Linked DNA regions of Homo sapiens: all the other regions are linked to region 3. Evidence: fine-mapped expression QTL. A gene starts in region 3. Each other region holds a variant in brackets. All regions are shown on one strand. Distances are from middle to middle.

Region 1 (10,088 bases), 79 kb after region 3:
ACCAAGTGAGAGGCTGGAAGAGTCACAAGGAGGAAGGGGCCAGAGAGGGAGGTCCCTGGTCCCCAGCTGTTCAGTTTGCAGGAGGGCAAACTGCAGTCCAGACAGAACAAGTGGCCTGCCCCAGGTCACACAGAAAGTAAGTAACAGGGGTGAGACTAGAACCCAGGATTCCTAACTCCAGCCCAGGGTTCTTGCCCCCCATCTCAGGCCTCTCTGTTGGAGTTTTCAAGATGGCCGTGTTAAGTAGGTGAGGTAGTGAGCCCCATAGACCAAGACCTTGGGACTCAAAGAAAGGATGTTACACAGGACACAGTGGCTCACACCTGTAATCCCAGCACTTTGGGAGGCTGAGGCAGGTGGATCACCTGAGGTCAGGAGTTCAAGACCAGCCTGGCTAACATGACGAAATCCTGTCTCTACTAAAAGCACACACACACAAAAAAATTAGCTGGGCGTGGTGGTGCATGCCTGTGATCCCAGCTCCTCGTGAGGCTGAGGAAGAAGCATCACATGAATCCAGGAGGTAGAGGTTCCAGTGAGCCAAGATTGCGCCACTGCACTCCAGGCCTGGGCGACAGAGTGAGACTCCGTCTCAAAAAAAATAAAAATAAAAATAAAAAATAAAAAGGATGTCACATGCTAAAATTATAGAGCACTAGATTTCCTAGAATTTCATATTAAAATGCAGATACTCCCAGAGAATTGTCATCCTTAACTCATTAATAACAAACACTTTGTGGTTAGCCAAGCCCTTGGATAAGGCAGAGGAAGAGACAGAGAAACAAAAGCGAGACCACTGAAAGATCCATTAGGGATAAATTCAGATTTTTGGAGTTTCTAAGAAGGCACTGGCCTTGTTTTTTTTTTTTTTTTTTTTTTTTTTTTTTGGTTTTTTTGTTTGTTTTTCGTTTGTAGAGATGGGTTCTCACTACGTTGCCCAGGCTGGCCTCCAGCTCCTGGCCTCAAGTGATCCTCCCACTTCGGCCTCCCAAAGTGCAGGGATTACAGGCTTGAACCACCATGCCCGGCCTGGCCTTGGTTCTGGAAGTCAACACACTTGGTTCCAAAGAGATTGCTGGCACTCATTTGGAGTTGAATTTTTTCCTGCACTCCCATCCCCAATTTTTTTTCTCAGAAGTTTTCAGTTGCCCTGTTCATGGCATAGATATTAACTACATCTACATAGTCTTGCTTTTTGTAGGTGACTATGAAGTGACTCGGAAACCTCAGTTCGAGCTTTTGGGAGACTTAGTGCCTTACGACAGCAGGGTGGTTGCGAGGAAAGCTTAAAGGAGAGATGCATGGGCCGGGGGTCGGGGGTCTTACAAGTCGCCTCCCGGCCATGGCTCCTTTAGGGGTGGTTTGGTTCTTGCTGCTGCTGTTGCGCATTTTGTTTTGAATGAATTAGAAAAGAGGTCTAAAAAATGTACCAAATAGGCCAGGCACAATGGCTCACGCCTGTAATCCCAGCACTTTGGGAGGCTGAGGCGGGTGGATCACTTGAGGCCAGGAGCTGGAGACCAGCCTGGGCAACATAGTGAGACCCTGTTTGTACTAAAAATACAAAAGTATTAGCCAGGCATGGTGGCATGTGCCTGTAATCCCAGCTACTCAGGAGGCTGAGGCACGAGAACCTGGGAGGCAGAGGTTGCAGTGAGCCAAGATCATGCCATTGCACTCCAGCCTGTGGGACACTGTCTCAAAAAAAAAAAAAAAAAAAATTGTACCAAATAAACTACCAATGAACCTTCCTCTGTCTATGTGCTCCCGGGGGCTTTGCTGGCCCTCAGTCTCCCCATTTGTAGAAGAGAGGGCAATGGACACAGGAGTTTTCCAACTGGGGTCTCCAGGATCCTGGGACACGGAGTTGCTTCCTAGAGCCTCCACAGAGGGTGTGTGGTGTGGTGAAGAGAAATTGGGAGTGGGGTGGGAGGGAGGGTAGCTGGAATAGAAAGGAGGAGTTTTAATCCCTAAGCCTGTTGGGGGAGGGAGCTTAGTTTTCTTTTTCTTTCTTTCTTTTTTTTTTTTTTTTTTTTGAGACGGTTTCTTGCTCTGTCTCCCAGGCTGGAGTGCAGTGGTACAATCACAGCTCACTGCAGCCTCAACGTCCTGGGCTCAAGTGATCCTCCCACATCAGCCTCCTAAATAGCTGGGACTACAGGCACATGCTACCATGCCCAGCAAATTTTTATTTTTATTTCTTGTAGAGATTGGGTCCCACTATACCGTTCAAGCTGGCCTCAAGCTCCTGGCCTCAAGCAATCCTCCTGCCCCAGCCTCCCAAAGTGCTGGGATTACAGACAAGAGCCACTACACCTGACTGAGAGCTTTGTTTTCTATCATAAACTCATCCGGCAAACTCTCCAACAGAAGAGAAGAGTAGATCTCCTTTCCATCTAGACAAACACATCAGAAAATCTACAGGTTTCATTTTTTCTTTGGCTGACAGAACCTCCCCCACCCCAGTCAGGCTGGTTACCCGCAGACTGTGCCCGGCAGCGCGGACCTCGGCATCTTCTTGCTCCTTCCTACTGGAGGCTGGAGCCCCTGGTCCCTGGAATCCCTGCCCTTCTCTTGCTTCACCCCTCGCTCACTTTAGTGGGTGCATCCTCCAGGGGCTTCCTGGGAAAAGGTGCATGGGGTAGGGTGGGGGTTTTTTTTTTTTTAAAGACTTCATGCCCAAAAGTGTCCTTTCTCATAGCATCCTGTTCTTGTTTTATAGATGCAATATCTTAGCTGTCTGAATATATCAATGTTTTCTTCTTCTCTGTGCATTGTCTCTACTTGCCTTAAATGCCTCCATCTGTTCATTGTTTTGTTTGCTGTCTGTCATGCTTGGGGCTTTTCTCCTCTCAAAGGTCTTTTCTCCTCTCCTTGGCTATCTGTTCCTATTTAAGAGTAAGACATAGGCTGGGGGTGGTGGCTCATGTCTGTGATCCTAGCAATTTGGGAGGCTGAGGCCAGAGGATCACTTGAGTCTAGGAGTTCAAGACTAGCCTGTGCAACATAGCAAGACCCATCTCTACAAAACTAAAAATTAAAAAAGTTAGCCAGACATGGTGGTGCACACCTGTAGTCCCAGCTGCTCAGGAGGCTGCACTTAGGTCCAGGAATTCAAGGCTGCAGTGAGCTATGATTTGCACCACTGCACTCCAGCCTGAGCAACAGGGTGAGACCTTGTTTCAAAAATAAATAAATAAGGAAACAAAAATCCGTTCAAAACTCTAGGTGAGGTGGGCAGAGCTTGTCAACTAGCAGCCTCTCCATAGGCCGACTGGACAGAACCTGGCCATTGTATTAGAAGATTCTCTAGTCAATCAGTATCTGTAGGTCTATTCCCTTTGGCTGGTCTGTTTCCCAGAGCCTAGGCTTTGACATTCCCATTTTCAGCCAGAGATTAGCCTTTGGCAGAGCTGAGCTTCCCAGACAAATGTGCCTATGAATCTCCTGGGGTCTGGCCGAGGGGTAGGTTCTGGCTAGCAGGCCTGAGTGGAGCTGAGATTCTGCATTCCCAACAAAGCGCCAGAGCTGCCGGTGCTGCTGATCCATGGACCACACTGTGAGGGCCACAGCCTGCGGCAGCACTGCCCAAAATGACTTGACACCATCCTGTGCTGTCCAATGCGGGAGCCACCAGCCACGGCGGGTACTGGGCAGCTGAAATGTGGCTAATGCAACGGAGACACTACATTCTTAATTGTATTTAAGTGTAATTAATTTTTCTTTAACTTGCCATGGCTACATGTGGCTATCATGTCAGGCAGTGCAGGGTTACCTCCTCCTGGCTGCCTCTGCAGACGGGGGCAGAACTCACTCTGTTCTGCAGGGTGGAGGAGGCCCACAGTGGTGAGGACGGAGGGAAGGGGTGGAGGGGGGCAGAGTGGAGCTGCGCCTTAACTTTTGTCTTCCTCTTTCTTTGGGTGGGGGGATGGAGTCTTGCTCTGTCACCAAGCTGGAGTGCAGTGGTGCGATCTCAGCTCACTGCAACCTCCGCCTCACAGGTTCAAGCGATTCTCCTGCCTCAGCCTCCTGAGTAGCTGGGACTACAGGCATGCACCACCACACCTGGCTAATTTTTGTATTTTTAGTAGAGACAGGGTTTCACCATGTTTTGTCAAGTTCCAGCCTGGTCTCAAACCCCTGACCTCAGGTGATCCGCCCGTCTCAGCCTCCCAAAGTGCTGGAATGACAGGCGTGAGCCACTGCGCCCAGGCAGTCTTCCTCTGTTTAGCCCCACCTGGCACCCTGACGTTTGGTGATCTCTGTCACCACTCACTCCTGAGTCTGGGGGGCTTCTTCAGTGCAATCAGCTTTAATTGGTTTCCTAGTCTGTAGGTTTAGGCCTTTGCCTTTTCCAGGCTGTTAAGTCATACTCAGCCGTCGGCTTTTCCGGCTTTCAAACCTGGATTGGCGTCTCTCCAGTGTGGTTGTTTTCTCTTCTGTACCCTTTGGCCTTGAGAGTTGACGCCTCTTGATTCTTGATTCCTTCACTGTCATGTGCCAGGGG[G/C]TTCAGGATGAAGCAGAGATGAATAGTCGTGCTCCATCTAGTTTGCTGAACCAGCCAGAAGTCCTTTCTGCTTTTTTTTTTTTTGAGACGAGGTCTCGCTGCGATGCCAGGCTGGAGAGCAGTGGTGCTATTTTGGCTCACTGCAACCTCCACTTCCCAGGTTCAAGCGATTCTCCTGCCTCAGCCTCCCAAACAGCTGAAATTACAGGCACCCGCCACCACGACTGGCTAATTTTTGTATTTTTAGTAGAGATGGGGTTTCACCATATTGACCAGGCTGGTCTCGAACTCCTGGCCTCAAGTAATCCACCTGCCTTGGCCTCCCAAAATGCTGGGATTACAGGCATGAGCCACTGTGACCGGCCCCTGCTTTCTTTTGTTTAAAAGATGTATCCCAAACTTTGTTTATGTCAAGATAAGGCCAACCGGAATTCATCCTTCTTACCTGTAAGTTCCCTGCAGGCAGGAAATTCATTGTGTTCAGTAGCCTAGAGAAACCACCCTAAGTTACTGCACGGACTGAGAGTCGCTGGGAGAAGTCCAAGGCTCTGCCTGTCTGGGAAAGAGAGCCCAGCTAACCAACCCAGCGCACTTCCTCTAGTCTGTAAAGGGATTGATGAGGCTCATGGAGGGGCCAGACAGCTGAAAGACATCCTTGCAAATCAGAACTGGCCAGAGAGGGGCCTAAAGCAGACAGTCTACTTTAGTAGACATTTACAAGACTAAAGTCCTTACAAGACCAAAGACCTTCTAAGCCCTTGGCAGGGAGGAACTCTGGAAAGGAAGATTTGAGATTGGTTATGAGTTAACTAGGCAAATAAATCCCACAGATGGGATAGAATTCTGGCTGGCAGGGGCTGGGCTGGACCGGTCCTTCAGGACAGGATGAACTATGGATACCTTTGAAGTGAAGTTAGAGGTAAGTTGGTGCTAAGACTTACATGAAATCAGCTTGCTCAGCAGGGAAGGAATCAGGCCTGCCCAGTTGCCTCTTGAGCCCACTCCCTATTCCCCTACCCCAGCTGGCCTAGCGGCTCCAGGACTCTTTCTCTGTCCGTCTCTCACAGCCCTTCTCATGCGCAACCTCCTGATTCGTTGCTCGTGCCGACCACCCCCTGCACACATCGGATCCACCTCAGTGCCTCCCGTGGTGCTTGGCCTGTGTGTCTGCGTGTAAAGGCAGTGTAGATGAAGCAGGAGTGGATTCAGAGTGCACACCTTGGGATCAGACAGATAAGAGCCCAACTCCTATGTAGGAAGCTGAATAATGGCCTCCCAAAAACATCCTCATCCTAATCCCCCAAACCTCAGAATATGTTAGTTTGCACAGCAAAAGGAACTTTGCAGATGTAATTAAGTTCATGACTTTGAGGTGGGGAGATTATCCTGGATTAGCTGAGTGGGCCCAATGTCATCGTAAGGTTCTTTATAAGGGAGAGGCAGGAGGGTCACAGAGAGAGGAAGAGATGTGATGATGGAAGCAGAGATCAGAGAGAGCGAGGTAAGACGATGCTACGCTGCTGGTCTGAAGATGGAGGAAGAAACCACGAGCCAAGGAATGCAGGCAGCTTGCAAGAAAAGGCCCAGAAATGAATTCTCCCCTAGAGCCTCCAGAAGGAACACAGCCCTGCTAACACTTTGATTTTAGCCCACTAAGGCCAACTTTAGAATTCTGACCTCTTAAACTGAAAGAAGATTAATGTGTGTTGTTTTAAGCCACTAAATTTGCAATAATTTGTTAGAGCAGCAATAGGAAACGTATAGATCCTAGCTTTGCCATGTATCAGCACAGATGCCTCAGGCAAGTTTCCTAACTTCTCTGAGCCTCAGCTCCTATGTCTGTAAAATAGGAATAATATATGGAGAAAACATATACAAAGTACTTGGCATGGTAACTGGCACGTAAAAGACACTTGATCAATGGCAGTAATTGTGCTTTTGGTCATCGCCATCGTCGTCATCATCATGGTTATTGGTTGTTTATCCACAGGTATGAAAACAGACTGGACATTTTCCTTCTTATCTAGTTCTTCTTGGATAGGGAGAATAGGAAACTGTTAAGAGGCAGGCCAAATAGCTCTACTCCAGTGATTCTCAAGCAGAGAAAATTTTGTCTCCCAAGGACATTTGGAAATGTCCTGTAACATTTTTGGTTGTTCTAACTGGTGGGATGCTACTGGCATCTAGTGAGCAGAGAGGCCAAGGATGCTGCGATGGTGCTGAATATCCTATAATGCACAGGACAGCCCCTCACACCAAAGAATTACCTGGCCTGAATGTCAGTAGTACCAAGGATGAGAAACTCTGCCATACTCTGAGGCCTGGCTGTACCTCTTGGGCTCAAAATATCAACAGGTAGAAAGAAAAGTGAGCAGAGAGTTGCCAGGCACGGTGGCTCATGCCTGTAATCCCAGCACTTTGGGAGACCAAGGCGGGCGGATCACCTGAGGTCAGGAGTTCGAGACCAGCCTGGCCAACATGGGTGAAACCCCATCTCTACTAAAAATACAAAAAATTAGCTAGGTGTGGTGGCGCACATCTGTAATCCTAGCTACTCAGGAGGCTGAGGCAGGAGAATTGCTTGAACCCGGGAGGTGGAGGTTGCAGTGAGCTGAGATCACGCCACTGGACTCCAGACTGGGTGACAGAGCAAGACTCCGTCTCAGAAAAAAAAAAAAAAAAAAAAAGTGAGCAGGTGAGCAGAATCCTTCCCTAGCAGGGTCACTGACCATCAGAGTGTCCCCAGGAATACTGCTTACCTCCCGGGGACCAGGATTGCCGAGGACGGTTTGGAGTAGGAGATCTGAGTTTGAGACTCAGCTCCTCCACTGACCTGCTGTTAGATTTTGGGCAAGTCCCTTAACCTCTCTGAGCCTCCGTTTCCTATCAGCACAGTGGAGATGAAAAGACCTGCCTCGCTGTGTGGATTGAATGGGGAAGCATGTGAAAGCACAGTGCCTGGCACTTGCATAGGGTCTGCTTGAGTGTGGGCTTCCTTCCCTCCTGGCCTAGAATATCGAGGTGGCATTATTATCCTCTGACATATTCACTGAGGGGCATAAACCCATTAACCCTGTGCCCTCCCCCCGCCCCACAGGGACAGCGGGACACCTGGAGATTTACATGGGAGCTCCTATGGAGGTCGAGGACTCTCAAGAGTTGGGTCCTTGGCTTGAGCCCAGAGACTGAGAGGTAGACGGAAGCCACAGGTCACATTCTAGCTCTCAGTCAATCTCCACCACAATGTCCACGGGTCTCTTCCTCCCACCGACTTCTGGCACTGTGTGTGCCACCCTTTTGGCACCAGCAAAGTAAGCCTTGTGACCACTTTCAGCTGGGGTTTCTATTTATAACTCTTAGCACACTCAGCTTATCATATCTGCAGGTCTTGGGTTAGAAGCTCCTGGAGTCCCCTTTTCTTACAATGTGGGTCACAAAAATCAGAGCAAAGGACATCTGAGCCACCGTTTGACAGGGTGGGGAAGTAAGACTTCCCCTGAAGTCTGTGTGTGGTGGGCCTGAAACCCAGACTTCTGGAGCCACAGGCTGCGGCTTTTGCCATAGGACTGCAGTATGATATTGATCAGGCACCTTTCTGTGGTCAGTGCTGGGCTAGGCATGGGGTGGGCGGTGGGGTGGGGTTGATGCCCAGTACATGTGATTGAAGAAAAGATTCTGAAAGGAAACAATTCCTTTTCTCATTCTTTCGGTCTGAGTTCCTCAGGACATAATCCCCTTGGCCCCTCTGGTTTTTTGGTTTTTATTTTATTTATTTATGTATTGTTCTTTGGTTTAAAACAGACCCACGGCCCTCTTTGCGTCTTCTCAGTCCTATGCACAGGGTGGGCATTGATTGAATGGATGGGAGGACAGATGGACAGAAGAACGGGTGGAAGGACTGTGTGCCCAGTGAGTGGGTGGGCGGGTGGGTGGGTGGGGGCATGAGTGGATAGCAGGATGAAAGAATAGATGGGTAAATGGAGCAGAAAATGTGCTCCCTTATTTCTGGGAACCAACTACAAGGAACACATGTTCAGTATGTAATTGTGTATGGCCTCCAGTTCAGGGGAGCACACGGCAGAATTCCTACCCCAACTTTGGGAGCTGTGATACACAGAGCCATGAACAGACAGGGCAGACGGGGTGGGGAGCTTATGATAAGGGATCCAAGAGGAATAGAGGGTGAAGGAAATGGCCATGAAGGATTCAGGCGGCTCGGGTGACTATGTACCCTACAGAGTGCTTGGAAGTTCATTCCCGGGTTTCCTTTCTTGTGCACTGCTGTTGCCAAATCAAAGCCCCTTCATGGAATCTGCCTCGGTTTGTTCCAGTCTCTAGTGCCTTCTAGGAAGGATCGCTGCTTTCCAGAGTGATGTGCTCACGCTGACTTCCCTCTCCTCACATCCCCTGAGTCCATATCTACAAAGAAGAATAAGCTTTTGGAAGACACTGGTTCTTGTGAAGCTATGAACAGTTCCATGTAACAGAATCACTGGTTGGAAAAGCCCTTAGAGATGATCTCCAAACTGGGCTATTTTACAGGCAGGAAAACCAAGGTCCAGGGAAGGGAGAGGACTTTCCAGGATCAGGTAGCAAATGAGTGACAAGGGAAATCCTGGTCTTCCGAGTCTCAGGTTATGAATCCACAGCTTGCTCTTCCCCTGCCCAGCCACAGCCCCTGTGTCCCACCGGTCCCATCAGGACTTTTTTCTCTTTGGGGGAGATTTCACTATTTCTTCTGTCTCTGCTCTCAGTGGAGATGGAGAGGAAGATCAGGTCCTTCAGAGGTCCTGGTGAATCCCTGCTCAGATCCCCTCCTTGGGACACCAGCGTTCATGGTCTGACTCCCTCACCTCCCTGTTTATACCTGAGTTTGACCAAATGCAGCCCAAAACTTGACCAGACAGAGAACAAGGAATTCAAGCTCCAAAGAGAGCAGGGAGAACACAGACTGGAGCCAGGGAGAAGCGAAGAAGGGCTGGGAACTGGCATGAGCACTCCAGGCACTCTGTTGGGCAATTATGGTATCTCATTTATTCTCACAACCCCACGAGACAGGGGCTGTTATCCCTGTTTTACAAATGAAAGAGCGGCTCAGTTTATCAAGCTGGTCAGTGATGAGGCAAAGATGAAAATCCAGGTCTAGGCAACCCCAAAGCCCTTGCTGGGTCATGAGCCCCGAGACAATGTGCTGTGTCACAGCACTGTCATTTAGCCACCCAGGAGGAGCGGAAATGTCTCTCCTGAGGGTCCAAATCAACACGGTCAAGGCTAACAGGGATCAATGCAAAGTCCTGATTGTCAGGAAGTCATCTGCACAAGTGCAGAATGGAGTCCTGGCGAATGGACAGCAGACCATCATGATATTGTCATCATGCGACTGTCACTGCCGCTCTCTTTCCACTTTGCAGTTTATAAAGTTCCTTCACGGCTGGGCACGGTGGCTCACGCCTGTAATCCCAGCACTTTGGGAGGCCGAGGAGGGCGGATCACAAGGTCAGGAGTTCAAGACCAGTCTGGCCAAGATGGTGAAACCCAGTCTCCACTAAAAATGCAAAAATTAGCTGGGCGTGGTGGCAGG
Region 2 (9,781 bases), 41 kb after region 3:
CTCACTGCAAGCTCCGCCTCCCGGGTTCACGCCATTCTCCTGCCTCAGCCTCCCAAGTAGCTGGGACTACAGGCGCCCGCTCCCACGCCCGGCTAATTTTTTTTTTTTTTTTTTTTATAAGTAGAGACGGGGTTTCACCACGTTAGCCAGGATGGTCTCGATCTCCTGACCTAGTGATCCGCCTGCCTTGGCCTCCCAAAGTGCTGGGATTAACCAGGCGTGAGCCACTGCGCCCGGCCTTAAATAAAATATTGTAGTCATTAATGGTGTGTTTGAATTGAAGAGATACCAGGAGATAGAGGTGAAGTGCAGTACTTTTATTCTTTAAGAATATAGTCTTTAGCCAGGTGCAGTGGTGTGTGCCTGTAGTCTCAGCTATTTGAGAGGCTGAGGTGAGAGGATCACTTGAGTTCAGGAGTTCAAGACCAGCCTGGGCAACATAGCAAGTCCCTGGCTCAAAAAAAAAAAAGTTTCCCATTCATATTAACTCCATCTTTTAAAAATGTCATGATTACAAAGTGAAAAGATTTGGCTTTCTTAGAGGCTCAATCACAGAGGTGAAAGTGACCTTGGAAATCATATACTCTATCCCCATGTTACACAGATTAGAAAAACTGAGGTTATGGCACTGACTTAGGCACCCCCAGCAAGGCAACCCAGGGACTACAACTGGCAATCCCAACTCCTGGGCTAGGGCTTTTTCTACCTTTTTTTGCATTGGCCTCTTAAAGAGGCAATGAATACTAATTCCTGGCATCAGAAAAAAAAAAAGGCATGAGGTGGGAGGATTCTTTTTTCCCTGATGGGAAACAGTGAATAAGAAAAATCTCATCATTCGATGGAAGAGGTGACTTAATAATTTTATTAATGAATTTGATGTCCCATGTTTTGTAGTTTTGTTATCATTGAACCATTGGGGCTGGAATCTGCCTAAATAATTTTATCTTGGTAGCCAGCAATTATGTTGGTATTTTATGTGGGCCTTCCCAGATTTTCATATTAATGAAATGACTAATAGTCGTACTTAAGAGGTAACTCTACTAAAGCAGAATGAGATCTAATATGTTGTGGAAATAAAAGAGTTTGCAGTGGAATGATACTCTCACTCCGTGCTTGTAAAATTGAGTTCTATTCAAGACGGAACTGCTATGACTGGCCTATTCAAGGCTTCATATTTTTATACAGACTATTTCACAGACCATAGATTTATTTTAAAAGGGAAAATCTCACACATAATTAAGCAGTGGAAAATGTGCTCAATGCTATGGTGCGTCAGGCCCTCTGTCTACCAGGTTTCTCCCCTTTCTGCAGAGCTGTGGACCCTGTACGTACCAAACAGGTGAACTTGGTCCATCTTTCCTTCTTCCTTTTTTTGCACATTTGCATTTATATCTTCCTGTACTAAAAGAAACAAATTATTTATAATTGGGGTGACAATATAAAGGAACAAAAGATGGGGCAATAGTTGCTTCCTAGCTGGAGCTGTAAGTCCATGTTACAGAAACTCACTATTTAAAAAGTTTTAAAAGATTTATGAACCTTGTCCTACAATTCGCTGAATACTTATTTGTCTTTTAAACTCCCCTCGGTGTATGGATCATCTTCGTCAGAATGCCGTTGTTTCATTGTGAATCAGGGGAAAATGTTAATCATTTGGAGACTGTTTTCTTATTACCAAATGTACAATCCATAAGACAACTGAAAGCAACAACTGCTGGGTTCACTGACAAAGATTATAAAAATCATCACGTTCAAAGTAGAGTTTTTAGCCAAGGTCAAGAACTAACCTGGGGCTGAGTCAGCGTCTCTACCCACTTAAATAACAGCGTAAAGATCTTTCACTAAATTCGTTATGTGGTCTGTCTGGATGTAAACCTATATATTTCCTTTTGAAACAGAATCATATCCTGCAGACTCTTGGCACTCCTGCATAGCTTTGACCGAATGTTCACTCTCATCGTAATGGAAGATTTCTATCTATGCAGATAATACATGTTTTTAAATACTGTTTTCTGTTTAGTCCTCAATCTTCCTAACTCAAATTGGGGACTGAGGAGAGAGAAAGGTGGTTACCCCTGTTACCGTGCCATATTCTTCTTGCTGCTTTTCAACCCCACGTGATTGTTGATTGACGGTTCTGCTATAATGTGCGTGCCCTTCAAGTTTCAGAAAACTTTCCCAATCATTTCACTTCAATCTTAATTGAACCCAAGAGTCAAAGTTATTATTTTCTCCGAACGTGTTTGTGATCTTCTGTTATATTTTGGGGCATGTTACCTTTATGGTATATAAGCTGTAGTGCATACTCTTTGTATTGCAAAAAACTGGTCAGTAATTTATGTACATGTATTCCACATTTTAGTGTGCTTGAAGTGACAATCCATAGTTTGTAGTAGTTTGTTATTTGTCAACTTTACCCTGTGTTTTAAGGACATCTAAACATTCCTTGTCCTATCAAGATGACAAAAGCAGAATGTAATTTTTTTTTGGAAGCTTCGTGATTACCTGTAACAAGTTCTGTTTTTAAAACGAATACAAATAAAGTTAGTAACTATTTTTAAATCAGTCCATTGAGTTGAGTTTTTTTGTGTGTAGTATTTTCAATACGCATCACTTACATTTAGCTAATAAGACAGAGAAGTGCAATATTGTGTTTGTTCCTTTCACAAGAGTCCTGTTGAACATTAATGCCGTGCAGTGCCAGAGTTCAAGGTGGTGAGTCACTGCTCACTCTGTAAATAACCACTGCACTTTCAGCTCTTCCCCAA[G/T]AAACCTTTTACCCTGGTTTCCCCTTTGGTTAAAAATGATTTATTCCGGGTAAAGACTTACTTTTTGTCTCGGTTAAAAAAAAAAAATCTCCAAAATGTGGAACTATAAATGACAGTAGAGGTTATCTAGTGCAGTGGGATTTCGAATACTTATTTTTAAGCCATAGGACTCTGCTCTTTGTTCAAATGAAATCTTACACAAAGCCAATGTAAAACTATTACAAAAAGGAAAGGTAAACAAAGCTGCTCCTTTTCAAGGGGCTGGGGGAAGAATGGGGACCTGAGTTCAACCCCTGTGAGAGCTCAGCAGAACAGACCCAGACACACCCCTCTATTGCCCCTGCCTCCCTCCACTTCCTCCTCCATCCCAACCCCACCCCCAACACACCTTTACAAGAAAGTGGCCCCAGAGGCATTGCCAAATGCACACATCTGGATGGTCATGGACCTGGGACTAGAACCCATTTCTTGACATTCTTTCTACCACACTCCACTACTTTGTTACACCAAAATCTAATTTTTCTGGATAAATGTATCTGGATAAAAAGGTTCTTGATATTGTTTTGTTTTTGAGACAAGGTCTTGCTCTGTCGCCTAGGCTGGAGTGCAGTGGCATGAACACAGTTCACTGCAGCCCCAACCTCCCAACTCAGTCTCCGAAGTAGCTAGGATGACAAGTGTGCACCACCACACCCGGCTAATTTTTGTATTTTCTGTGGAGACAGGGTTTCCCTATGTTGCCCAGGCTGGTCTCTAATTCCTGATCTCAGGCGGTCCACTTGCCTTGGCCTCCCAAAGTGCTGAGATTACAGGCATGAGCCACCGAACCTGGCCTTTTTTGTTTTTAAAAAACTAAAGCGGAGTCGCTGAGGACATTTCCACTTTGAAGTTTTTCCAAGCTGTGTTCTGTGGGGCTGCCTCCAGGGGGCGCCATGCTTCCAGGTTCCTGGGGCCTTTCACTCCTGCTTCAACTCTCCTATTATTTGCTATACCTAAAGGTCCTAGCATGTTTTCCACTTGAGCTAAGGATTCCTTGGCTAAAACAGAAAATTGGAAAACCACTGCAAAGAACCTAGGACAAAACACACACACAAACAAATTTTTTTTCTGAGACCAAGTTTCAATCTGTTGCCTAGGCTGGAGTGCAGTGGCGCAATCTCACCTCACTGCAGCCTCTGCCTCCCGGGTTCAAGCAATTCTCCTGCCTCAGCCTCTCGAGTAACTGGGACTGCAGGCGCACGCCATCATGCCTGGCTAATTTTTGTATTTTTAGTAGAAACAAGTTTCACCATGTTGGCCAGGCTGGTCTTGAACTCCTGACCTCAGGTGATCCATCCACCTCAGCCTCCCAAAGTGCTGGGATTACAGGCACGAGCCACTGCACCCGGCCAAAAACAAAATTTTTAATGCAGAGTAGGAAATACAAGAATCAAGATTTAAGTAATTTACCTAATAGACTGGCTTCAAGTTAAACGCATACAATGTATGTATCAGATGTATCAGAGTCCTATTATCACTGAGAAGTATGTTTAAAGGGCAGGAGTGAGCCACCACTATGTTCCTGCCCTCAATGAACACATTAAAATGTTCTAATCTAGAAGAAGAAAAGATTAAAATTCTTGCACACACAGGAAAGATCTCATCTTGCCAAGCTTCCCCGGGTCTTCTGAGACATAGAAAGTATAAATGTAAGCAATTTGTAGATTAGATATTTCAGTAAGGTATTTCAAAGTAAGTTACTTGGGAAAAGTTTGTGGTCCGAAATGTTTGGAAAAGTTAAATGCTGAAAATTAAAAGTTAAAGACCTAAATCTAGAATGTAAAATTACTAATAGAACAAATTGTGGGAGAATATCATTGTGACCTAGAGGCAGGGAGAGACTTCATAAAACTTTAAAAGCATAAGCTATAAGGTAAGAATTCTAATTGGTTACATCAAAATCAATGATTCATGTTCAATGAAGAATGCCATGAAAATGTTCACACAATAGGGAGAAATATTTGCAGTCCTGATGTTACCGGAAAGGGCCCTGATCCAGACCCCTACAGGGCATTTTTAGATCTCATGCAAGAAAGAATTCGGAATGAGTCCACAGAGTAGAGCGAAAGCAAGTTTATTTTATTTATTTTTATTTTTTTGAGACGGAGTTTCACTCTTGTTGCCAAGGCTGGAGTGCAATGGTGTGATCTCGGCTCACTGCAACCTCCGCCTCCCAGGTTCAAGCGATTCTCCTGCTCAGCCCCCCCGAATAGCTAGGATTACAGGCATACACCACCACGCCCGGCTAATTTTGTATTTTTAGTACAGACGGGGTTTCTCCATGTTGGTCAGGCTGGTCTCGCACTCTGGACCTCAGGTGATCCACCCACCTCAGCCTCCCAAAGTGCTGGGATTACAGGCGTGAGCCACCGTGCCTAGCTGAGTAAAAGCAAGTTTATTAAGAAAGTAAAGGAATGGGCCAGGCATGGTGGCTCACGCCTGTAATCCTAGCACTTTGGGAAGCTGAGGCAGGTGGATCATTTGAGATCAGGAGTTCGAGACCAGCCTGGCCAACATGATGAAACTCCGTCTCTACTAAAAATACAAAAATTAGCCAGGCGTGGTGGTGCGCACCTGTAGTCCCAGCTACCTGGGAGGCTGAGACAGGAGAATCGCTTGAACCCAGGAGGCGGAGGTTGCAGTGAGCCGAGATTGTGCCACTGCACTCCAGCCTGGATGACAGAGTGAAACTGTGTCTCAAGTAAAAGAAAAGAAAAGAAAGTAAAGTAAAGGAGTGAAAGAATAGATACTCCATAAACAGAGTAGGGCGTTCCCAAAAGCACAAGGGGGAACGTGCCTGCCTAAGATACAATGCTTGTTTATATATAAGATAAAGCAAAAATCATGGCGGAGATGTGCTCTACTACAAAGGTTTGTGACAAAGGACTGTTAATCTTTGCGTAACTGCTGTCTTCCACAAGCATCTATATTATTATCTTTAAAGCGAAACATATTCTTAAACTAAAAATGCTTTTGTTCTTAAGATATTGGGACATCAGGACATTTCCTGGGTCTATTATTTCCCATTAACATTAACATTATTAACTTGTACCCTTAACTGTAAATATCCTGTGACTAAGTACACCTAACCTCCTAGGAATGCAGTCCAGTAGGTCTCAGCCTCATTTTACTGAGCCCCTATTCAAGATGGAGTCACCCTGGTTTGAACACCTCTGACACTAACACAGGGGAAATAACTATAAAATGCAAAGAGATTCTGCAAATTGACAAGGAAAAGCAGCCCAATAGAAAAATAGGCTACAGGATATGAAAAGTAATTGACAGAAAAGGAAAACAATGAGCCTATGAAGAAATACTAAAACCTAGTAATCAGATAAAGTGCAAATTAAAATGACAAGATGCCATTTATACCTATTGGATTCTCAAAAATGTAAAAGCAATTAATGCCAAGTATAGCCAGAGGGAGGGCATATAGGAAATCTGATATAAAACTGGTGGAAGTATAGACTAGTTTAGTCATTCTGAAGAACAAACTGGCAGTCCTTGGTCATCTAAGTAAGAACAAAACCTCTGACTCTGCAGTTCTGCTCCTGGAGATAGATGAGACAGAGAGAGAGATGTCCCAAGAATATCCCAAAGGGATTCTCACACAGGGCCATAAAGAGCTATGTTGAGGATGTTCATTGCACCATTATTTATGGAGACAAACTGGTATTTGCAACTGGAAAATGAACACTATGGAGAACCATGCAGCAAGAGTAGCCATATACACAGCCACATGGATATATCTTGAAAACAGCTGAGTGCCAAAAGGAGGAAGATGTATCTAACATTTGCATTATGTGAAGTACTGCACAAAGACAGTAATGCACTTTGCAAGAATACATATAAATAAAAAGATACACATTAAACATATATCTCCAAACATAAGAGGCATCTTGCACAGATCAAGGATAATGTGCAAGATAATTGCACACTGATCAAGGATAATTGCAGGATAATTGATTAAGGATAATAAGTCTGATTTACTATGAGACTTTATATCACCTTTTGATAGACTTTAAAGGGTTAACAGATTCTTTTTTACTTTACTACATTATGTAGATGAAAATTCTTTATTAAATGTACTCCCATATGGATGGAAAAAAATATACTGTATCATTCATTCTTCTCTGAGCTACAAATGAAGAGCGTTGCATGTGGTTTGACTCTAGATTCACCATTTCCTTTTGGTTCAAAGAAGTAATCAGGTTAATTCGCGGCCTGGTGCTATCTTTCTTAAATATCTTTTGAATAATTGAGATCTTTGATGGGAAATTATACAGTATTCTGTCCTGAGAGATTTGACCAGGCTCCTTCCCCCAAAGGAGGAAATTAAACCAAAAATGATTTCTCAGAAATTGCCTGAGTAAGCCCTGTGAATGAAAGGTCTTTTATGGACTAAATGGACTAGCCTCCTCTGACTTATTTCCTTGATAACTTCAGTTACTTGGCAGGCTATTTATTCTATCCCATTAGATATTTCTAACAACTGTTGGAAAGTCTAGAATGGAGATTTGTCTCCTTTGCAAATGAGAAGCAGCCCTTGGGCATCCTGCTAATCCTAGATACTGTATACTAATGACTTCTATTGTGAAAGGGCACAGAGCTACCCTCCTGCTTAGTTCCTGTCTCTAGATGTGTCCAATTATATGAATTGAACACTTTAAGGTGTGTTTTCCCGGAGAGAAGTTAACTAGTTGTTCATGCTAGAGAAAAAGGAGACAGTTAAACTGCAGGTTTAATAAAAATCCATTAAGGGGTGTATTACTTATCTATTGCTGCACAACACATTATCCCAAAATTTAGCAGCCTAAAACAAGAAAACATTATCTCACAGTTTCTGAGGATCAGGAATCTGGGAGTGGCTAAGCTGGACAGTGGTGGCTCAGGGTCTCTCAGAGGTTGCCATCAAGTCATCAGCAAGGCTGTGATAAGGACAGGAGGCAGAGAAATTCTAGGCTGAAAAGGACAGGGACCCTGGCAAAGCTCCACCCTCAAGCCTGGAAACATGGCCCAAACTTAGAAAATCCCTGTATTCCCATTCAAATGTTGCCCTTTCCAAAACCACCCCTGGCCCACCCAATCCCCATCCTGTACCCATAAAAACCCCAGGCTCCACTGGCAGAGAGCAGAGAAGGGGAGAAGAGAAGAAGCAGCCGGATGTCAGAGAGAAGCAGCTTGACTTCAGAGGGACGGCTTGACAGTGGGACTTTGGAGAAAAGTCCGATTGGAGATGGCCAGACTTCAGGGGAAGACCACCTCCCCGCTCCATCCCCTTTCCAGCTTTCCTTCCATCTGAGAGCCGCTTCTGGCAGCAATAAAATCCCCCGCATTTACTATCCTTCAATTTGTTCATGTGACCTGATTTTTTTCTGGATCCAGACAAGAGCCTGGGATACGGAAGGCTGTCACACTGACCCTCTGCCCTCGCTGGTGGAAAGCAACCACCTCACGTGAAAAGGTGGAGAGAGGGCCCACTGAGCTGTTTAACACTTAAGCCGTCTGTGAACGGCAGAAGCTAAAAGAGTGTTCACTGTAGGCCGGGTGCGGTGGCTCACGCCTGTAATCCCAGCACTTTGGGAGGCTGAGGCAGGCAGATCACGAGGTCAAGAGATCGAGACCATCCTGGCCAACATGGTGAAACCCCGTCTCTACTAAAAATATAAAAATTAGCCGGGCGTGGTGGCGTGCGCTTGTAATCCCAGCTACTCAGGAGGCTGAGGTAGGAGAATCGCTTGAACCCAGGAGGCAGAGGTTGCAGTGAGCAGAGATCACACCACTGCACTCCAGCCTGGTGAGAGAGCGAGACTTTGTCTCAAAATAAATAAATAAATAAATAAATAAATAAATAAATAATTTTTAAAAAGAGTGTTCACTGTAACACTCCTCCAGTCTCTTGGGGGGGGGGGTCACAGGTACTCCCCTCTAGATGCTGCCATGGGAGTTTTGCTCCTACCAGTGCCCAAAAGCACTTGCCCCAGCTCCTGCACCTGTTCACCTGTGCTCCCCATCCCACGAGGGGTTGAGAGCTGTGGGATAAGTAAGTGAGGCACCCCTGTCGCAAGGCTCACAAAGAGGTCAAGGGGAATTTCCTGTTTCAGCTGGACAGTCTGCTTCCCTGCTCACTCACATGGCTGTTGGCAGGAGGCTTCAGTTCCTCGCCACAGGGGCCTCTCCAGAAGCCTGCTCACAGGACATGGATGCTGGCTTCCCCCGAGCGAGTGATCAGAGAGAGAGAAAGAGAGAGAGCCCAAGATGAAGTCTTTTTATAACCTAATCTCAGAAATGACAGACCATCACTTCTGCCATATGGTATTGGTCATAGACCAGCCTGGTACAATGTAGTAGGAGAAAAAGGGGGCTAAAGTAGAGAGGAAAATGTATAGCTCTAAATGCTTCTGTTAAGAGCTTAGAAGGGCATAGGGTAAGGACTCTTTCTTCATCTCTCAGCTGTCTTTGTCTCTACCTCTCTTTGTGTGTCCACCAAATTCCTTCTTACTGCAAAAAGGATGTCCGCTCGCAGCAGAGAACATGGTAACCAACAACTCAGGTGGAAGGAGAGCTTCTTTCTATGATTCCATATTGCAGTGGGATTCTCATTGGCCAGATTGGGTTGCCTGCCCATCCCTGAGGCCAGATGGGCAAGGCTTTTACCCAAGAAAGGGAAATGAAAGCAGGGCAAACAAAAATAAAATAGCTATCACAGTGAACTTCAATCACAGTAAACTTCAATATCTCAAGAAACTTTATAAAGACCAAAAGGGGAGAGTATTTTATTCATTGGTGAATTAGTCCGAGTTTAGAGACCTAATAAGTAAGCACTGATTTTTATCTGGTCTTCATTTTTTTCACCACTCAATTCTGACTCCAGGCAAGATACGAGAAGTAGATTTTAAGCATGTTTGATAAATGTACCCAAAGTAAGTTCTGGTATAGAGAGTTTCAGACAGAGAGTTTTTATGATATTTACC
Region 3 (10,088 bases):
CACAGGTTTAAAGAACTTGCCCAAAAATCACACAGCCAGTCAGTGGTAGCGCTGACTTCCTGGAGCCCATACTCTTTCCATTGTACTTTTCTGCCTTCCCATCAGCAACTGAAAACGAAGCAAGAAAGCTCCTCAGATTTGTCATAGACTATATTTAAAGAAAGGCCACATTTTTCTTATTTAAAATGCATTAAACAATGCAACCAATTAAAAGAACTGAGATGGATTTGTACAAAAGCAGGGACTAGGTCTGTTTTGTTCACTGCTATATTCCCAATGCCTAGAACCATGTCTGGCAAACATACTGGCATGGGAAGAACATTTCCATAACCCCTGAATGTTCTGTGCCCCTTTCCAATTAATCCCTACCCTCAGAAGCAACCACTATTCTCATGCTTATTACATTAGTTTTGCCTCTTCTTGACTTTCATATAAATGAAATCATACATCTATGCGTTTTGACTTCTTTTGCTCAACAATTGCTTTTGAGATTTATCCGTTGTTATGTGTATCAACATTTCATGATTTTTTTTTATTGCTGTGTAGTATTATATTGTTTGAATATACCATGGTTTTCTTATCCATTCCTCTTGTGGACATTTGGGATATTTACAGTTGGAGAATAGTATGATTAAATATTTTGTGTTGTTGATTTGTTTTTGTTTTTTTGAGATGGGAGTCTCTTTTGCTCAGGCTTGAATGCAGTGACACAATCTCGGCTCACTGCAACCTCTGTCTCTCGGGTTCAAGCCATTCTCCCACCTCAGCCTCCCAAGTCACTGGGATTACAGGCACCCGTCACCACACCTGGCTAATTTTTGTATTTTTAGTAGAGACAGGGTTTCATTATGTTGCCCAGGCTGGTCTCAAACCCTAACCCCAACTGATCCACCCACCTTGGCCTCCAAATTGCTGGGATTAGAGGCGTGAGCCACCTCACCCGGCCAAGATGTTAAGAGCATTCTTGTACCAGCCTCTTTTTTGGTAGACATTTCCCTACATTTCTCTTGAGTCTGCATCTAGGAGTGGAATTTCTGGGTCATAGGGTAGGTGTACGTTTAGCTTGATAAACTGGCAGTTTCCAAAAATCAGTTGCATCCTTTTACATTCCACTACTAATGTATGCATGTGAGATGGAGATCTTTTGCCACTTGTATCATTTTCATAGCACAAACCCAAAACAAACCTAATAAGGATTTGTTAGGATATTTACTGTTAAATCTACTCAAATAAGAATAAGAAAATCTGGAATAAGAAAATCTGAAATGAAATCGCTGGTCTGGAAATTCTCCTAAAAGGCAAGAGGTGTGCTACTCGGGATCTGTGGCATTGTCTGAGAGGTTCTACTGAAGTTTTCCAGGGCAGCGAAATGCTTAGCACCCTGGGCATAGGTTTCAACGGATTGAGCCACAGGGATCAATTTCTCTTTTTCTCGGCCTGTAACTCAAACCTCACATGAGAAGGAGAGGGAGGGAGTGTTAGAAATGTGGAACTGTCAAGTTCATTCATAACAAGCATTGATTACCCACCGTGTGGTCATCACCTCGCTAGACACGATGGTAAAAAGGAAGGATGTGGAAGATTCTGTTCTTGCGCTCAAGTTATCGAGTTGCCCACGATCTAGACGATAGATACAAGATGGCAACTCTTCCTCTGTTCACCATGGAAAGGCTGGTGTTTGTTCTTCTAGATTCTGCCTTTTGCCCTTTCTGTGTTCTATTCTACGTGGGCTCCCCGGGTCATTTCATCTGAGCCCGTGGTTTCAACTAACTAACGCGCCTCCCTCCCAAATCACTACTCATTGAGCTCACTCCTAGGCTCCAGATGCATGTTTTCCAACTACTTCCACCCTCAGCTCCTCTCTACTGCTCATGATTTACATACAATTCCTCAGTAAACTGTGTTAACATTGCCTCTGAGATATAGCCAGAATCCTACCATTTCTCATTGCTTCCCCCATCACGACCCTGTCCAAGCCACAGTCATCTGTGGTCTGCACTATGGTGATACTTCTTCCAAACCAATATCAGTACCATAGTGCTGTTGCCTGCCCTTGATTCATTCCCCTTTCTTTTGGTAATAGAGACTTGAATCTCCTTTGTTGAATGTAACCATCAGCATCCCAGCAGATGATTAATCTAAAGGGGGTTTAGTAAAGGTTACATACAGATGTGTGGGCAGGGTTGAGGGAAAAAGCAGGGCTGATGGTGTGATACACTGTGGCAGGCAACAGAGGGGAGCCATTATCACCTCCAGGGTGGATAATTCTGGAGGTGGAGAAGGGAGAATTTACTAGAACTAGGAGAGAGTAGCTGTGTGAAGAAGGCCAGTTGACAGAAGCTTCAATAAATACATGTAGCCAACCTGCAGCGACCCAGAAGGGCAGGGGCCAGAGGAATAATACCCTTACCTTCCTCCTCCTCCAACCCTCGGGTCTCATTTCCAATGTCTTCTATTTGGTGAATTCAACTGTAAGTCAGAGGACAAGGGATCTGTGGAAGCAGTCCATGCAGGTTGGCCTCTTGAGGTTCAAATCAGGAAGGAAAAGGGTGGAGAGTAGGTCTGGAAGGGCCAACAGAAATGATCTAGCACAGGAAGCCACCTCTCCCCAAATCTCAGTCCACGCGATTTGTGAGGAGCTGTCAGAATGTTCCATGCCCCTTCTCAGGAGAGTGGTTTAGTGATGCACGGGTAACACAAGTTAGACCAATGGGATGTAGTCCTGGGACTTTTGTTGACAGCATCAGGGAAAAGAAACTCCCTTTCTGCTGGAAAGGGTGTGATCTGAAATTGTAAGCAGCCATTCTGCCATCTCATGGGGAAAAGGAAGCCTAAGAACGCAAAGTCAACAGGAAATAGAGTCAAGAAATGGAGGCCGGGTGCGGTGGCTCACGCCTGTAATCCCAGCACTTTGGGAGGCCGAGGTGGGCAGATCACGAGGTCAGGAGATCGAGACCATCCTGGCTAACACGATGAAACCCCATCTCTACTAAAAATACAAAAAATTAGCCGGGCGTGGTGGCGGGCGCCTGTAGTCCCAGCTACTCGGGAGCCTGAAGCAGGAGAATAGCATGAACCTGGGAGGTGGAGCTTGCAGTGAGCCGAGATCGCGCCACTGCACTCCAGCCTGGGCGACAGAGCGAGACTCCGTCTCAAAAAAAAAAAAAAAAAATGGAGAGAAAAAACTTAATCCTAATGTCGTAGTTTAAGCCCCTGAATCCGGCCATGCCTGAAGCCCCAAACTTTTCTATTATGTGAGTCAATGCATTCCATTTGCTGCTTAACCCAGTCTGATTGATGTATTCCATGAAAAAAAGAGAATCTTGAATAATACTGGAAAATGCGAACCCCGTTCCCTGAACCATCATGTAGGATTGCTCACTTCTTCCTCTGCTTTGTCAGCACTTTGCAAATGTCTCAGTGCACAAATACAACTGTATCACAATCACTGTCTCCCCCATCTGTGAGCTCCTCAGGTGGCAGATCTCTATGGACCTTACCCTTGCAAGCCCAACACCCACACAGGGCCTAATACCTCAGGGAAACTAAATTAAGCTAATCTGGTTGTTTGACTTAGGATCTCTCAGGGCCATTTTTTTTGTGTGAACGTGCATCAGACATCTCCAGGCAGGGCTATGGAATGCAGCTGTTTCCAATCTCATTTGATGTGAAAACTCAATTTTTTGGCCAGGTGCAATGGCTCACGCCTATAATCCCAGCACTCTGGGAAGCCAAGGCAGGAGGATTGCTTGAGTTCAGGAGTTTGAGACCAGCCTGGGCAACATTGTGAAACCTTGTCTCTACAAAAAGTAGAAAAATTAGCCAGGCATGGTGGCATGTGCCTGTAGTCCCAACTACTCAGGAGGCTGAGATGGGAGGATCACTTGAGCCTGGATGGTTGAGGCTATGATTGTGCCACTGCACTCCAACCTAGGCAACAGAGCAGACCCATCTCAAAACAAACAAAAAAACACCAAAAAAAAAAAAAAAAACAACCCTCAATTTTTGCAAAAGTTGCTGTGTTAGAGGAATTTAGAGAAAAAATAATTACTATAGTCCTTAGAGTGACCTTGACAAAAGAAGCAGCTTGCCATCAATATTAGTTAAACGAATGAAAGTGAAGAACTTAGTTTAAGACAAGATGGGGAGCAGGAGCAGCACGGTTGGAGGCAGCAGGAACCACAGAAGCAGCAAGCAGGAAGTAGGAGGGGCGATCTGCTGGACATACCTCGGTGACTATGCTGGGCTCAACTGCTGGGGAGCCCTTGGGGTCATAATCCAACCCTGATTTCTTAGTTTACATCTAACAGGGATTAGATGTGCTGTACACATTTTAGTCCATCTTCCTGCCCCATGATGCAGGCGCTGAGTGCCTTTGATGTTAAGCTTCACTGTGCCTCACTTTGCCTCTGAAAGGTCTTGAGTGGGTAATGAGAGCTGATTTTCTTCTAACTGCACATTCCTTTTTTTTTTTTTTTTTGAGACGGAGTCTTGCTATGCTGTCCAGGCTGGTCTCAGACTCCTGGCCTCAACCGATCCTCCCACCTCTGCCTCCTGAGTTAGCTGGGACTACGGGTGCGCACCACTGCGTGACTGCGCGTCCTTGTAGGTGGGAGATGAGCCCAGTTATTTTCCCTGCTGTGTGACCCTGCTTCCTTCTCTGCCGGCTAAGGGAAGAGACACCAGCTGCCTTCCAAGTTGGGCTCAGGAGCTTTGTCATCATAGTTGTTATTGGTGGTAATAATACCTGCCAATGTAAGCCTCGGTCCTATCACTGAAACTCGCTCAACAGCTTAGACCCCGGCTCTTCCCTTTGCGTAATAGTTGTAATCATGTCCCATGGTCTCCTAAGGCGTCGGAGACAAGCAAGACTGCGTGGAAGGGTTTTTACACGAAAAAGAAAGCATTAAACATGTGGATTGTATGACAACGGTAGATAGGGCATAGGGTGAAGAGGAGTAAGAGGAGGAGGGAGAGCGGGAGGAGGGAGAAGAGCACGAGTGGGGAGGAGAGGAGGGGAGGGGATGGGAGGGGAGGGGAAGGAGTGGGTAAGGGGAAGAGGGTTGTACCCGCCAGGGCGGGACCCAGCCTGTGCCGTCCCACACCTTGTGCTAGCTCCAGCTCAGCTACCTGCGGCCGCCTCTCCTCGGGCAATGAGGCGCCGGGAAGCCCACAGCATCTGATAATATCCGGGCCGCCGGTTGCCGGGAGGTGAACCGAGGTAAACTCGCCGCGCGCGGGGCGCAGTGTACATAGTAACCAGCCCTGAGTAAACGTTCGTCATATTCCTATGAGCTGCTCCGGGGACTGTCCTACGGGGCTAGCAGGAAAAGGAGATCGGCTCTCTCCGCTCCCGGTGGAAAACGAGAAGGTCGCCAGAGGTCCTGTTTTCGGGGTGATCTAAAGCCCCCGCCCCAGCGCTACAGCCCAAGCCCCCCACAGGCTGGGGACCAGGAACCCGGAGGAGCGGGAGGAGGGCGCGCGCGGCGAGACACCCCCACCCCGGCCCCCGCGCGCCCCCGCCCCGGTCCCCGCCCGGGTCCCCGCCTTGTCCTGGGCTCTGGCGCCTGCGCCGCCGTGCGCGCGCCCTGCCAGAACAGGAGGGGACGAGGCGGGCGCGCGGCGCCGGCAGCCTAGCTCAGCCGGGACACCGCCCTAGTCCCAGCCCAGGGGGCCGCTCTCGCCGGCGTCGAGGGCGTGGCGGCGAGGCTGCTGCTGCAGGCGGCTCCCGGCTCTGCCTTCGGCCCCGCCCGCCGCCCACCAGGCTCCCAGAGGCCCCGCAGCTCGCGCCGTCCGGCTCCCCGCAGCCCCGTCGGGCAGCCCGGGCCCGTCCGCTGCCCTCCCGGCTCCCGTCCTGCGGCGGCGGGGCGTGCAGGTGAGGCCCCACGGCGCCCGGCCTCTCCAGCAGGTTTGCACCCAGCGCGGGGCGGGGCGGGGCGGGGCGGGTGGGGGGGGTGGTGCATGAAAAGTTAAAAAAAAAAAAAAAAAAAAAAAAGCCGCCCCGAGAAGTCCGGGAGGGGTGGGCACTCCGAGCCGCGGGACCGGGAGATGCTACCGCGCGCGACCTCGCCTCCCGCGACCTCGCCTCCCGCCGCACCCTTCTCGCGCGCGGGGTCTAGTCTGGCAGCCTCGAGGGTGGTGTCCCGGAAAACAAAACAAAAATGTTTTGTCTTCTCCACCAACGATTTTCTCCCACCAAGTGTGTTTGACCTTTTGAAAAGCCGACAGGCCCAGCCTGCCTGTGAAGGCAGGAGCGGTGTAGGGGCGCCTGGAAGGTGGAAGCCCCCTGTCTTTCTCCCTTGCCCCGCTTCCCCCACGGTGCGTGGATCACCATCGCATTAGTGACTCCCTAACTTCTTGAAACTTGTCTGTCTGCTTCTGTCCGCCGCCTGGACAGGTAGGGCAGGAGTGATCTGTTCCAGGTTGATTCTTCTAGCTTCCGTGCAAAATCTGATCATCTCCTTTAGAGATTAGGATTCTAGTGTAGGAAGCAATCCAGATCCGTGTTTCAGATACAAACAAGGATTATTTAAAGTGATGTTTTCCTGTAGTGCTGAAAGCCAAAAATATTCGCTTCCACTTGTTGGAAGCCACCAAGTACACCACATTTATTTGAACTTTTCATAGAAGTCTCTGATGTACTATTTGGCAAAAGAAGCAATTGATTTATCTGTAGCTGTGATTACATACGATGTAAAGTAATTTGTTTTAAGACTATTTCATTGGCTTTGGTTCAATATCTTAAACTCTGTAAACACATAATTCAGGAGCCAGATATGCATCACACAAATGTGTTCTTTTTGGTGGGGATTTAAATTGATCTAGAAATGGGCTTTCCATCCAGGAAGACTGTGAAAAGCTTGAAAACTGAGTCTCTTCTTTAGCCAGGTCATCAGCTTTACATTTTACTGCATTGGCAAGCCTTGCCTTTTCTTTTCTCTTCTCTTCTCTTTTCTTCTTTTTGAGACAAGGCCTCGCTCTGTCATCCAGCTGAAGTGCAGTGGTGCAAACACAGCTCACTGCAGCCTCAACTTCCCAGGATCAAGCGATCCTCCCACCTCTCAGCGTCCTGAGTAGCTGGGACTACAGATGCCGGCTAATTTTTTGTAGAGATTGGGTGTCACTATGTTGCCCAGGCTGTTCTTGAACTCCTGGGCTCAAGCCATCCGCCCACCTCTGCCTCCCAAAGTGCTGAGATTACAGGCATGAGCCACCGCACCCAGCCAAACCTTTTCTCTCTTAGCCTGAAAACAGATTTCAGTGCTTTTCTAGGAAACAAGATTTTTCCTGCTGTTGAAATATAACGTTTGTAAAGGTTTCAAACATGTGAACATTAGGTAACAGACAAGAGCAGATTTTATATGGTGTTAGAGTTGTTGGTTGAAGGACTTAAAGCATGAAAAATAGTGTGACGCGGAAATCCATTAGCCTGAAGCCTGTGAAATAATGGAAGCTCTAAAGTTCAACACCGTTTGTTACTTAGAAAAAAAACACAGAAGGTGGAGGTCGGACAGCAATCTCCACTTTTCCCCTAGAATGTAGAGGTTCTATCCAGGGAAAAGAAATTATACACAGCACAACAAATAGCATCAGTCTTATATATCTCAACTTCAGTTATTCTTTAAAACCTGTTGTTTTCATATGTTTTGTAGGCTGGTTTTTGTTGTTTATTTCTATCTGTCTCTTGCTGACAAATTCCTGGTGGAGTGGAACTTCAATTATAACAGGACCAATTCTAGGTTATCTGTGAAAACAAGACATGGGTCATTGAAACATACAAAATACAAAAATCAAATTTTCACCCGTTTTACTTTACTGTCGCACGAAATTTTTCTTACACACAGCTACTAAAAAATAGTACAGTTCTACCTGTAAGTGGTAAATGAGTAGAGAATAGAAGGTAGGGCTTCGTGATAGCCGTTCAGAACTTCGCATTGACGATCCTAAGTGGCTTTTTGTTGTTGCTTTGTTTTTTTTTTTCTCTTTTTTCTTTTTTTTTTTTTTTTTTTTTCTTTTTTTTGAGATCTCCTTCTGTTGCCCAGGCTGGAGTGCAGTGGTGCAAACACAGCTCACTGCAGCCTTGGCCTCCCAGGCTCAAGTATTCCTCCCACCACAGCCTTCTGAGTAGCTGGGACTACAGGCGTGCACCATGTGTTTTTTTGTAGAGACGGGGTTTTTCCATGTTGCCCGGGCTGGTCTCGAACTCTGGAGCTCTGGCAGCCCGCCTGCCTCCGCCTCCCAAAGTGCTGGGATTACAGGCATGAGCCACCACACCAGTCCAAGTGTTTTGTTTTGTTTAACTTAGTTGAAATTTTTAATTTAGAAATTTAAAAAAGGAACTTAGTAGCCCAAAGCACCTATGTTTATTTTATATATTTTATACACTTTATGTATTTTATCTTGTTCATTTTATAAATACAGAAAAACCAAGGGATTTTTCCCAAGGTTATACAGCAGGACACTTGTAGAGCTGATAATGGAGCACTTGTTTGCTTCCAGTATTGTTTGGTAGCATTTTTAACATACAAAAAAAGTGAAAAGTACATCTAGCTAAGATACTGAAATGTTCACCAAGTTGGGAAGCCTATTAATTTGAAAAATTATTATTATTTTAATCCTGGAGGAGAAAGAATTTGCGTTTTCCTGATCAGAACAGAAAATGCAAGATCCATGCCATGTGCTTGACATTTTGCCTTGATAGATGACTTTTGTCACAGGCCTGTTGTGGCAGAGCAGATGGTCATGCTACTTGGAGTTTTTCCACTCATTTGATATTTCCATGAAGAAACAATTTGCCAGAAGCCAGCCGTAGTTAGAGTTGTGCTGGAGATGACGGGAAACCTGGATTAGCACAGACTTTTGCTTACAGGAGCTGGAGGATATCGGTTCAGCCCTTTCTGCTGGGCCAGTCAAGAGTTCCCTGGATTGGTAAACTGAGGAACAGTTTAGTCTTGTGATAGTTGGAGTGGAGCTATAATTATACCACTGCACTCTAGCCCGCATGACAGAGACCCTGTCTCTAAAAAAGGAAAAAGAAAGAAATATAGATATCTTGGGACAAACGACAAATAATTTGACAATAATCTAAAGAAAAATTGAAGGAAAATAGCTAAGACATTATTAGGATAACTGATAAAATTTGAATCCAGATTATGCATTTGACAAATTATGTATTAGATAATAGTATTATATCAATGTTAAATTTCCTGTTTTTGATAATTATCCTATGGGTTATATAAGAAAATGATCTTGTTCTTATACACTGAAGTATTTGGAAGTAAAAGGGGTATGCTCCATCTTTCAATGGCTCAGGAAAATGCATGTCTATAAAAATAGAGAAAGATAAAGCAGATGGTCAAAACAGAAGGAATTGGTGACTCTGGGTAAAGGATACAGCATACCCGAGTTCCTTGTGCTATTCTTATAACTTCTGTTTGAAGTTATATCAAAAAAAAAAAAAAGGTACTCAAAATTGAAGGTAGAAAACAGGAAATGAAGGTGTGATATTCTAAGAATTTTTTTTTTTTTAAGTCAGGTGAAGGATTATTTCCTGTGTTCTGTTTTTTAAAATCTTTTTACGGGTTAGACGAGGGAACTTGAAACAAACAAATCTTATCAAGAATAGGTTGACTTTCTCAAATTTCAAAATCTAGTCAGCCAGAGCTCCCCAACTTACCAGCCTCCAAAAACCCGGGCACAGTATTTTCTCTACCTCTTTTTAATGGGTTGGGAATAGGATAGAAACATTAGTGCCTCTAAGAGATAAGATACAAAGACAGCCCACCTTTAGAGATACTAAAAGTTAAATTGCACTTGGTTTTATCATTTCCCTGCCTAAAAACCCACAATGGCATGCTGATATTGACATGGTTTTTGTGTCAAAACTCTGTAACCCTACTTGCTTGGCAACCTGGCCCATACCTGCCTTTCCGACTGTCTCATGCCACCCCCACCAAACACCTTGCACCCTAGCCATGCCAGATCACGTGACCTTTGTGCATGCTGGTCCTACTGTCTTCCTGCCTTTGTTCATGTCCTGCTGGCTTTGTGTGGAATGCTCCCCATTCTTTTCCTCCTGAAATTCTGTT

Which allele goes with the higher level. Alleles are on the strand shown, and positions count from the first base shown. SD is a standard deviation of normalised expression in the study named. Not every link is listed here.
In carriers of allele T in region 2, the expression in liver of the gene that starts at base 5,594 in region 3 tends to be higher than with G alone (moderate effect, 0.65 SD a copy in GTEx).

What was found. PIP is the estimated chance that this variant, and not a neighbour inherited with it, causes the effect. A credible set is the group of variants that fine-mapping cannot tell apart.
Region 1: its variant is the best candidate, but not a certain one, in a credible set for the expression of RCAN3 in tibial nerve (GTEx, PIP 0.69).
Region 2: its variant is the best candidate, but not a certain one, in a credible set for the expression of RCAN3 in liver (GTEx, PIP 0.68).

The regions. Positions count from the first base shown.
Region 1 is chr1:24,576,545-24,586,632 of GRCh38, forward strand. The region is part of intron 1 of NCMAP (non-compact myelin associated protein); the gene reads left to right. Among named protein-coding and RNA genes, the nearest start is that of NCMAP, 26 kb to the left of the region's middle. The variant G/C (reference allele first, on the strand shown) is at 4,508.
Region 2 is chr1:24,538,476-24,548,256 of GRCh38, forward strand. It overlaps RCAN3 (RCAN family member 3), which reads left to right. Exons shown (of 5, transcript NM_013441.4): 5 at 1-2,565. NCMAP-DT (NCMAP divergent transcript) reads right to left here. Exons shown (of 3, transcript NR_109781.1): 3 at 799-1,401. Among named protein-coding and RNA genes, the nearest start is that of NCMAP-DT, 13 kb to the right of the region's middle. RefSeq lists an enhancer at 2,584-2,878. The variant G/T (reference allele first, on the strand shown) is at 2,769.
Region 3 is chr1:24,497,243-24,507,330 of GRCh38, forward strand. RCAN3 (RCAN family member 3) reads left to right here and starts at 5,594. Exons shown (of 5, transcript NM_013441.4): 1 at 5,594-5,908. RCAN3AS (RCAN3 antisense RNA) reads right to left here and starts at 5,140. Exons shown (of 2, transcript NR_144360.1): 1 at 5,106-5,140. RefSeq lists an enhancer at 4,280-4,379 and silencers at 4,983-5,155, 5,437-5,936, 7,443-7,643.